Homo sapiens: one gene and its partner. The protein of the gene in region 1 interacts with the protein of each later gene in a pairwise test. Each region holds a gene or a part of one and is shown in the gene's direction. Other genes may lie near its edges.

The links. Proteins that work in one complex are often made in the same cells at the same time.
Region 2: the proteins of UQCRC1 (region 1) and TBX6 interact in binary tests that used the Homo sapiens proteins (3 or more experiments, as listed by UniProt).

The regions. Positions count from the first base shown.
Region 1 is NC_000003.12:48,607,719-48,611,660, reverse strand, and holds the start of UQCRC1 (cytochrome b-c1 complex subunit 1, mitochondrial precursor), read left to right. Parts: upstream 1-2,014; 5' UTR 2,015-2,040; coding exon 2,041-2,109; intron 2,110-2,358; coding exon 2,359-2,499; intron 2,500-3,942. UniProt on the Homo sapiens protein: Component of the ubiquinol-cytochrome c oxidoreductase, a multisubunit transmembrane complex that is part of the mitochondrial electron transport chain which drives oxidative phosphorylation.
Region 2 is NC_000016.10:30,090,004-30,093,603, reverse strand, and holds the start of TBX6 (T-box transcription factor TBX6), read left to right. Parts: upstream 1-1,679; 5' UTR 1,680-1,731; intron 1,732-2,069; exon of another isoform or gene 2,070-2,362; 5' UTR 2,363-2,410; coding exon 2,411-2,528; intron 2,529-2,611; coding exon 2,612-2,846; intron 2,847-3,600. Other genes in the region: YPEL3 (protein yippee-like 3), read left to right, coding at 805-894. UniProt on the Homo sapiens protein: T-box transcription factor that plays an essential role in the determination of the fate of axial stem cells: neural vs mesodermal. Acts in part by down-regulating, a specific enhancer (N1) of SOX2, to inhibit neural development.

The DNA.
Region 1 (3,942 bases):
AGACGGGGTTTCACCATGTTAGCCAGGATGGTCTCAATCTCCTGACCTTGTGATCCGCCCACCTCGGCCTCCCAAAGTTTGGGATTACAGGTGTGAGCCACCGTGCCCGGCCGAATATGTATGTTTAGCCAAGCCATTCGACATAAAGCTCCTGCCTCTTTTTAAGGGTCTGTCTCTGGTTTTGACCAGAAGCCCACCTCCCAGCCTGCAGGTTGTAACCCTTTATAAGAAATAAAGTCAGCCTGGCACGGTGGCTCATGACTGTAATCCCAGCACTTTGGGAGGCTGAGGTAGGAGGATCACTTGAGCTCAGGAGTTTAAGATCAGCCTGGGCAACATAATGAGACCCCCGTCTCCACAAAAAATAAAAAAAAATTAGCTGGGTGTGGTGTGAGAGCCTGTGGTCATGGCATCTGGCATGATTTTTATAAAGATAGTTTTATTTTAAGTATAAGAGTAGTTTTTGGGTAAGGTGTGGTGGCTCACCCCTGTAATCCTAGCACTTTGGGAGGCTGAGGTGGGTGGATTGCTTGAGGCCAGGAGTTTGATATCAGCCTGGCCAACATGGTAAAAAATGCAATGATCCTAGCCCTTGCCTCTTCCTGTACTTAAGATACTGTCTGACAGGATTAATGATTATGCTTCTGTGACCTATAAACAGATGTACTCTTGCACCCAAACCTTGATGAGATTTATGCTCTAATGTAACTTCTGAGCACATTTGATGTAATTTCTGAGCACATGGAGAGCCGCCACCACCAGTGTATAAACTGTCGGAAACACTGCTTTGGAGCAGTCTAGCAGAAACTCCCTGAAAGGCTCTCCCGGGTTGCAATTCTTGGTAAGACTTCTGAATAGAACTAACTTTAAATATTTAAAAGCTTGTTTTTTTTTTTCTTTAGTTGACATAACAAAGCATACCTTAGAAGTCTTTTTTTTTTTTTTTTTTTTTTTTTGAGACGGAGTTTCGCTCTTGTTGCCCAGGCTGGAAATGGCGCGATCTCGGCTCACCGCAACCTCCGCCTCCCGGGTTCAAGTGATTCTCCTGCCTCAGCCTCTGGAGTAGCTAGGATTACAGGCATGCGCCACCACGCCCGTCTACTTTTGTATTTTTAGTAGAGACGGGGTTTCTCCATGTCGGTCAGGCTGGTCTCAAATTCCCGACCTCAGGTGATCCGCCCACCTCGGCCTTCCAAAGTGCTGGGATTACAGGCATGAGCCACTGCACCCAGCCAGAATTCTTTTTCCTCTTACAGAAAAGGAAAGGTTTCACCATGTTGGCCAGGCTGGTCTTGGACTCCTCGCCTCAAGTGATCCACCTGCCTCGGCCTCCCAAAGTGTTGGGATTACAGGAGTGAGCCACCGCTCCCGGCCTGTACTTAGTTCTTTTAAAGAGAAAACTGGCAGGGCGCAAAACTGGCCAACATGGAGAAACCTTGTCTCTTCTAAAGAAACAAAAATTACCGGGCATAATCCCAGCTACTCGGGAGGCTGAGGCAGGAGAATCGCTTGAAGCCGGGAGGCGGAGGTTGCAGTGAGCCGAGATCGCGCCATTGCACTCCAGCCTGGGCGACAGAGCGAGACCCTGTCTCAGAAAATAAAAAATAAATAAAGAGAAAAAAATACTGACTTTCAGCACCAACTTGTGGTCCCAGGTAAGTTTCCACGCTGGTACTTTAGCCCTGGGCTCGAACCTGCGGACACGCTGTGGCTGCAACTCCCCGCCCGCCAGACCTCAGTACGCAGCGCGGCTGGTGAGAAACATAATGCACTCTGACTTCCACGCGTGGAATGGGGAGATGGACTGCACGGCGGGCGGACCTGCTCGGGCTGATGGACGGCAGGTGGACTGATGTGCGCAGGGACTGGCGGCAGCGCGGTCAGAGCCAGTCAGCCAAAGCCAGGCCAGCACAATAGACTGTCCCGGTTCCCGCCAGGAGGCGGCCGAGCACCAACTGTACGGTACTGCGCCTGCGCCGCGACCGCCAACGCGCCCAGTCTACGCTTGCGCGGCGCAACAGGGCCGACTGCAGCTGGAAGATGGCGGCGTCCGTGGTCTGTCGGGCCGCTACCGCCGGGGCACAAGTGCTATTGCGCGCCCGCCGCTCGGTGAGGTGGTGGCGAGAGCGCGGGGCTTCGGGACAGGGCTTCGGGAAGCGGACAGGTGTGGGCTGTTAGCAGTGGCAGGTCGAGGTGGGGAGGACGCGGGGTCAGGGCCGTGGGAAGGTCACGGCGGAGGGCGGGGAAAGGTATCTCGCCGCTTGCCTAGGGGCGGGGTTCGGGGGTCCTCCTGAGGACCTGGGAGGTGGGGAGCGATCCCCTGACCGAGTCCTCACTCGCGGCTGTTCCCTTCCACAGCCGGCCCTGCTGCGGACGCCAGCCTTGCGGAGTACGGCAACCTTCGCTCAGGCGCTCCAGTTCGTGCCGGAGACGCAGGTTAGCCTGCTGGACAACGGCCTGCGTGTGGCCTCCGAGCAGTCCTCTCAGCCCACTTGCACGGTGAGTTGGGGACGCTTTTGGGGAGAGGGCCTCCAGGTTGGGCCTGCCGTCTTTTCCCTGGTTGGGGTGTGACCTTGGGCTCGAGTCTTCCCGTTTGTGGTTTGGGTTCGGACCCAGGACCACTCACCCCGAGAATGGCCCCATTCCCTACCCTAGCCACGCCTTGGCTTCACGGGACAATCTTCACTATAAGCCAACATTATTTAGCATATAATGCCCGTTAAGTAGGCGGCCAAATTCTTTTCCAGCCTTTTGTTAAGGAGCCCATATAAGGGAAGTGATCATGTCTCCTCTTATAATGCGGAAAATGGGATTCAGACACCTTAGGTGACTTGCAGGGGTCCAGGTCTGTCAGCCTCACTGCCCAAGGTCATAATCTCCAGGCTAGACCAGAAATACATTTTAGGAAGCAAATGCATTTTAACAGTACAATGAAATGTGTGATTTTCCAAAAAATACAAATTCTCTAAATTGACACAAGAAATCTTGAGTCACAGATAGATATATGAATAGGTGAGAAGATTCCCAAGAAATAATTATCTCCTCCTCCTTTCAGCCCCCAGCCCCAGGGCCAGATGTTTTTATTGACACATCCTTTTAGTTTTCCAGAAACAATGTCCTGCGATTTAAATTGTTACTAAGCATAGGAAAAGGTGGCCTGCAACTTCCTTGTTATATGTCACTTGTTATAGTAAAGAATGCTATATTACATGAACTCTAAAATGTGCTAGATTGTAAGGAGCTGTCTGTGCTCCAGTGCCAGAGAAAGAATCTCAAGAATCTTGCCAATTTTAATCAAAGGATACTATAGATTGTAAAATGCCTCTTGCATTCCAAGATGTTAGATGTGAAATACATGTTCATCTAAGATTGTGTGATATATGGTATATGCATTGACATCTCTTAGGAAAGCAAATATCACATGTTCTCACTTATCAGTGGGAGCTAAAAAATACGTACATACAGATGTAGAGAGTGGAATGATGGACAGTGAAGACTTGGAAGGATGAAGGGGTGGATGATGAGAAACTACTTAATGGGTCCAGGCCTGGAGGCTCACACCTGTAATCTCAGCACTTTGGGAGACCAAGGCAGGCGGATCAGCTGAGGCCAGGAGTTCAAGACCAGCCTGGCAAACATAGTGAAGCCCCATCTCTACTAAAAATACAAAAATTAGCCATGCATGGCACACGCCTGTAATCCCAGCTCCTGGGGAGACTGAGGCAAGAGAATCGCTTGAACCCGGGAGGCAGAGATTGCAGTGAGCCGAGATGGAGCCACTGCACTCCAGCCTGGGTGAGAGAGCGAGAGTCCATCTCAAAAAAAAAAAAAGAAATTACTTAATGGGTACAAGGTTTGTTATTCTGGTGATGGATAATTCAGAATCCCTGATTTGACTACTTGTGCATTCTGTGCCTGTAATGACATCACACTTGTGGGCGG
Region 2 (3,600 bases), on another chromosome or scaffold:
TAAAGAGCTGGCCTAAACAAGAGGTCAAAAACTCAAGTGCCAGGCTGGGTGTGGTGGCTCACGCCTGTAATCCCAGCACTTTTGGGAGTCTGAGGCAGGTGGATCACCTGAGGTCAGGAGTTCGAGAACAGCCTGACTAACATGGTGAAACCCCATCTCTACTAAAAATACAAAAATTAGCTCGGCGTGGTGGTGGGCGCCTGTAATCCCAGCTACTCGGGGCCAAGGCAGCAGAATCACTTGAACCCGGGAAGCGGAGGTTGCAGTGAGCCGATATCGCGCCGTTGCACTTCCAGCCTGGGCGACAGAGCAAGACTCCCTCTCAAAACCAAACAAACAAAAAAACCTCAAGTGCCTGCAAGGCCAAGCAGATACTGTAGATGTGTAAAGGGTAGCATAGATTGGCAGGGTTGGGAGTTGGGGGCAGGCTGGGCAAACTGGAGTGAGCAAGGCCTACTTATATTTTAATACTTTAAAGTTATTTTTATTAAACTGTCTGCTGTCCAAACATAATACATGTTGTAGGCCAAAATGGCCATGAAGCTACCAGTTTGCAAACCCTGAACTGTGAAATCTTTTAGCCACTTCCCTATCTTCTCTGTTGGAGCCATCATTAGTACTTAAAAAAGTACCTTTGAGTCAGGGAGTTCTATTCTACTCTGTGTTTGTGAGAAATACGGCCCTGCCCCTCTGGGCCACAGTTTCCTCATATGTAAAATGGGGCCACTCATGTCCACTTCCCAACCCCAGTGCCTTGTGGTGAGACTGTTGCTCCGGGGATGACGGTCCCGCCCCTCCTTTCAGGAACAGGCCTTTGAGAGCAGCCAGAAGTACAAAGAGGGGAAGTACATCATTGAACTCAACCACATGATCAAAGACAACGGCTGGGACTGACCCCCGCTCCCCCGACGCATGTGGCTCCAGCCCGGCCTGGCCGCCAGGGAGCGCCACTGGCTTCCCGCCACCCGAAGGGAGCTCTGGACCCTCAGAGCCCCTGCAGAGGACGGATCTAGCTCCTGTATATATATTTTATTGCATGCACTGTGACCTTGGGGGGAGAACAGAAGGGGGACGACGCCCCCGCACCTCCTGCGATCTGGCTGGCTTGGATCTCGTTTTTAACCCGTTCCTGCCCCACCTGCCCTATAGTTATGGCCTGTGTTCTGCTCTCCTGGTCCCAGTGCACCGTCTGCTCTGTGAACTCCTCCCACCAGGCCCTTCTTACCCCACGCGTGTCTGTCCCCCTCGTTCTGTAGCGTTTGTACATAATAAAACAATGGAGTGGAGACAGCTCAGGCTCGCGTGTAATCCGGGAAGGGGGAGCTCAAGCGGAGATTTCCGCCCCTATAGACCTGTGCGGTTCTGAGCCCCGGCGGGGCATGGGGTAGGCACAGCCGTCCAAGCTGGGTCTCCGGGAACCGGGACGGTTTCACTGCTGGCGGAGGTCCTGAGCCCACTCTGGCTGCCTACGCCGTGACCTCGGCTGATCTGCGTCTGCTCATCTGCAGCGTTTGGCCGCCGCCTAGGGGCAGCGTCCCAGGGAGGCAACCGCGCCGCCGGCCTCGCAGCCCCCTCGCGGTCGGACTGCAACTCCCAGCGGCCCCCGCGTGGTCCGTCCGGCTCCTTCGGGCGCGCCTCAGCGCTGAGCCTGCCGGGAAGTGTAGTTCCGAGGGTTCCCCAGCGCGGGACCTTCGGGAAACCCTGGCGCGAGGCGTCAGAAGCTGTCGGACTGTGAGCGCCTTCGAACTTTGGAGGCTTGGCTCGGGATGGAGGTTTTTTTAGCATGGGGACCAGGGAGGACTACGGTGCTCGGGACTGGGCTGCGGCCTCCTCGCGGCCCCGAGTGCCCTGTGAAATCAGCTCAGGCCGCGTCCCTCTAGCCTGCACTTTCCCTCTGTTCACGCTGCTTCCCTCCAGGGCCCGGCCTCCAAGTGAAGGGGGGCGGAGGGCGGTCACCTGCCAGAAGGTCTGGGGCGCCAAGGTGTGTCCCGGGACTCTTGGCTCCGTCCAGGTTCCAGGCCCCGCCCCCCAGCTTATCCCTAGCCGGGGCTCCCCACCGTGGGAACGGGGACCAGCTGGCCGGAAGCGCCAAACTGCGTCCCTGTCCGAGCCCTGGGGATCAATCAAGCCGAGGAGTTAATTATGTAATGAGGGGGCAGGGGGTCGAGGCTAATGAAGCCTCCCGGGGTGGGGAGGGAGGGGAGGAGGGGACCGTACCCAGGTATCCGACCCCCTCTCGGACCCCTTCGAGGCCCCAGGGGTCTCCACCCCAGCCCAACTCCAGGGCCCCAAAGAGGGGAGGGGCTGTGATCCTGGATCTGGAAGGGGCTGAGCTGTGAGCTATAAAGGGGGCATCTCGCAGCACCGGGGGCCCTAAGCAGCGAGACCTGAGGCCAGACGGAACTACAACATGTACCATCCACGAGAATTGTACCCGTCCCTGGGGGCCGGCTACCGCCTGGGGCCCGCCCAACCTGGGGCCGACTCCAGCTTCCCACCCGCCCTAGCGGAGGGCTACCGCTACCCCGGTGAGCGTTGGGACCAGCTCCTGGGTAGGAGAATAGGGGGGCTGTGGCCCTCGGCTGGCTCCTCATTCTTCCCCGGCTTCCAGAACTGGACACCCCTAAACTGGATTGCTTCCTCTCCGGGATGGAGGCTGCTCCCCGCACCCTGGCCGCGCACCCACCTCTGCCCCTTCTGCCCCCTGCCATGGGCACTGAGCCGGCCCCATCAGCTCCAGAGGCCCTCCATTCCCTCCCGGGGGTCAGCCTGAGCCTGGAGAACCGGGAGCTATGGAAGGAGTTCAGCTCTGTGGGAACAGAAATGATCATCACCAAAGCTGGGAGGTGAGGGGCTGGCCAGGGTCCGTGTTTCTGGTGGGGGTCTCTTGGGAAAGGCAGAGTCCCTGGGGAGGGGGCTAGGACTGGGTGGTTCCCGAGGGGCTAGAGCTCTGCCTAGGCCTAGAATCTGACTATGGCCTGGGGCAAGGGTTACTCTGTGGCAGGAATCAGGAGTCACTCTGTGACAAGGGTTAAGGGCCAGTCTGTGGAGTCTGTGGCTGAGTTTAGGGACCAATCTATGGCAAGGGTCATGGGTCAGTCTGGGGCAGGGTCAGGAAGTCCCTCTGGGTTATAGGTTAGTGTGTGGCTTAGACCAGCATCCAGACAAGGACAGGGGGTCAAGGGCCAGCCCATTGACCAGCATCAGGGAAATCTGGCCAGGATTCGGGATCAGTATGCAACTCGAATAGGAGTCAGTATATGACTAGGTCCAGGGTCACCCTAGAGGCAGGGACACGGTCAGTGTTTGACCTTAGATGAGGTCTTTAGCTGGGGCAGGAACTCAAGCCCTAGCATGGAAAGTCCTCGGCCCTACTGCAGGCAGGGTATATTTTTTCTAAAGCAAATTCATCTAAGAGCTGCAGATTCTGGTGCTGGAGATCAGGGGAGGAGAGGAGGGTGGGGACAGGAAGCTCCTAGCAAGAAAGTTAGTCACCCCTGCTTCTGCAAATAGGCTTTGAGGGGTAGGAGTCATGGCTCTGTTCCTAACCTGCTGTGTGACAGATCACTTAACCCGTCTGTCCTGTTTCCCCAAATGTAA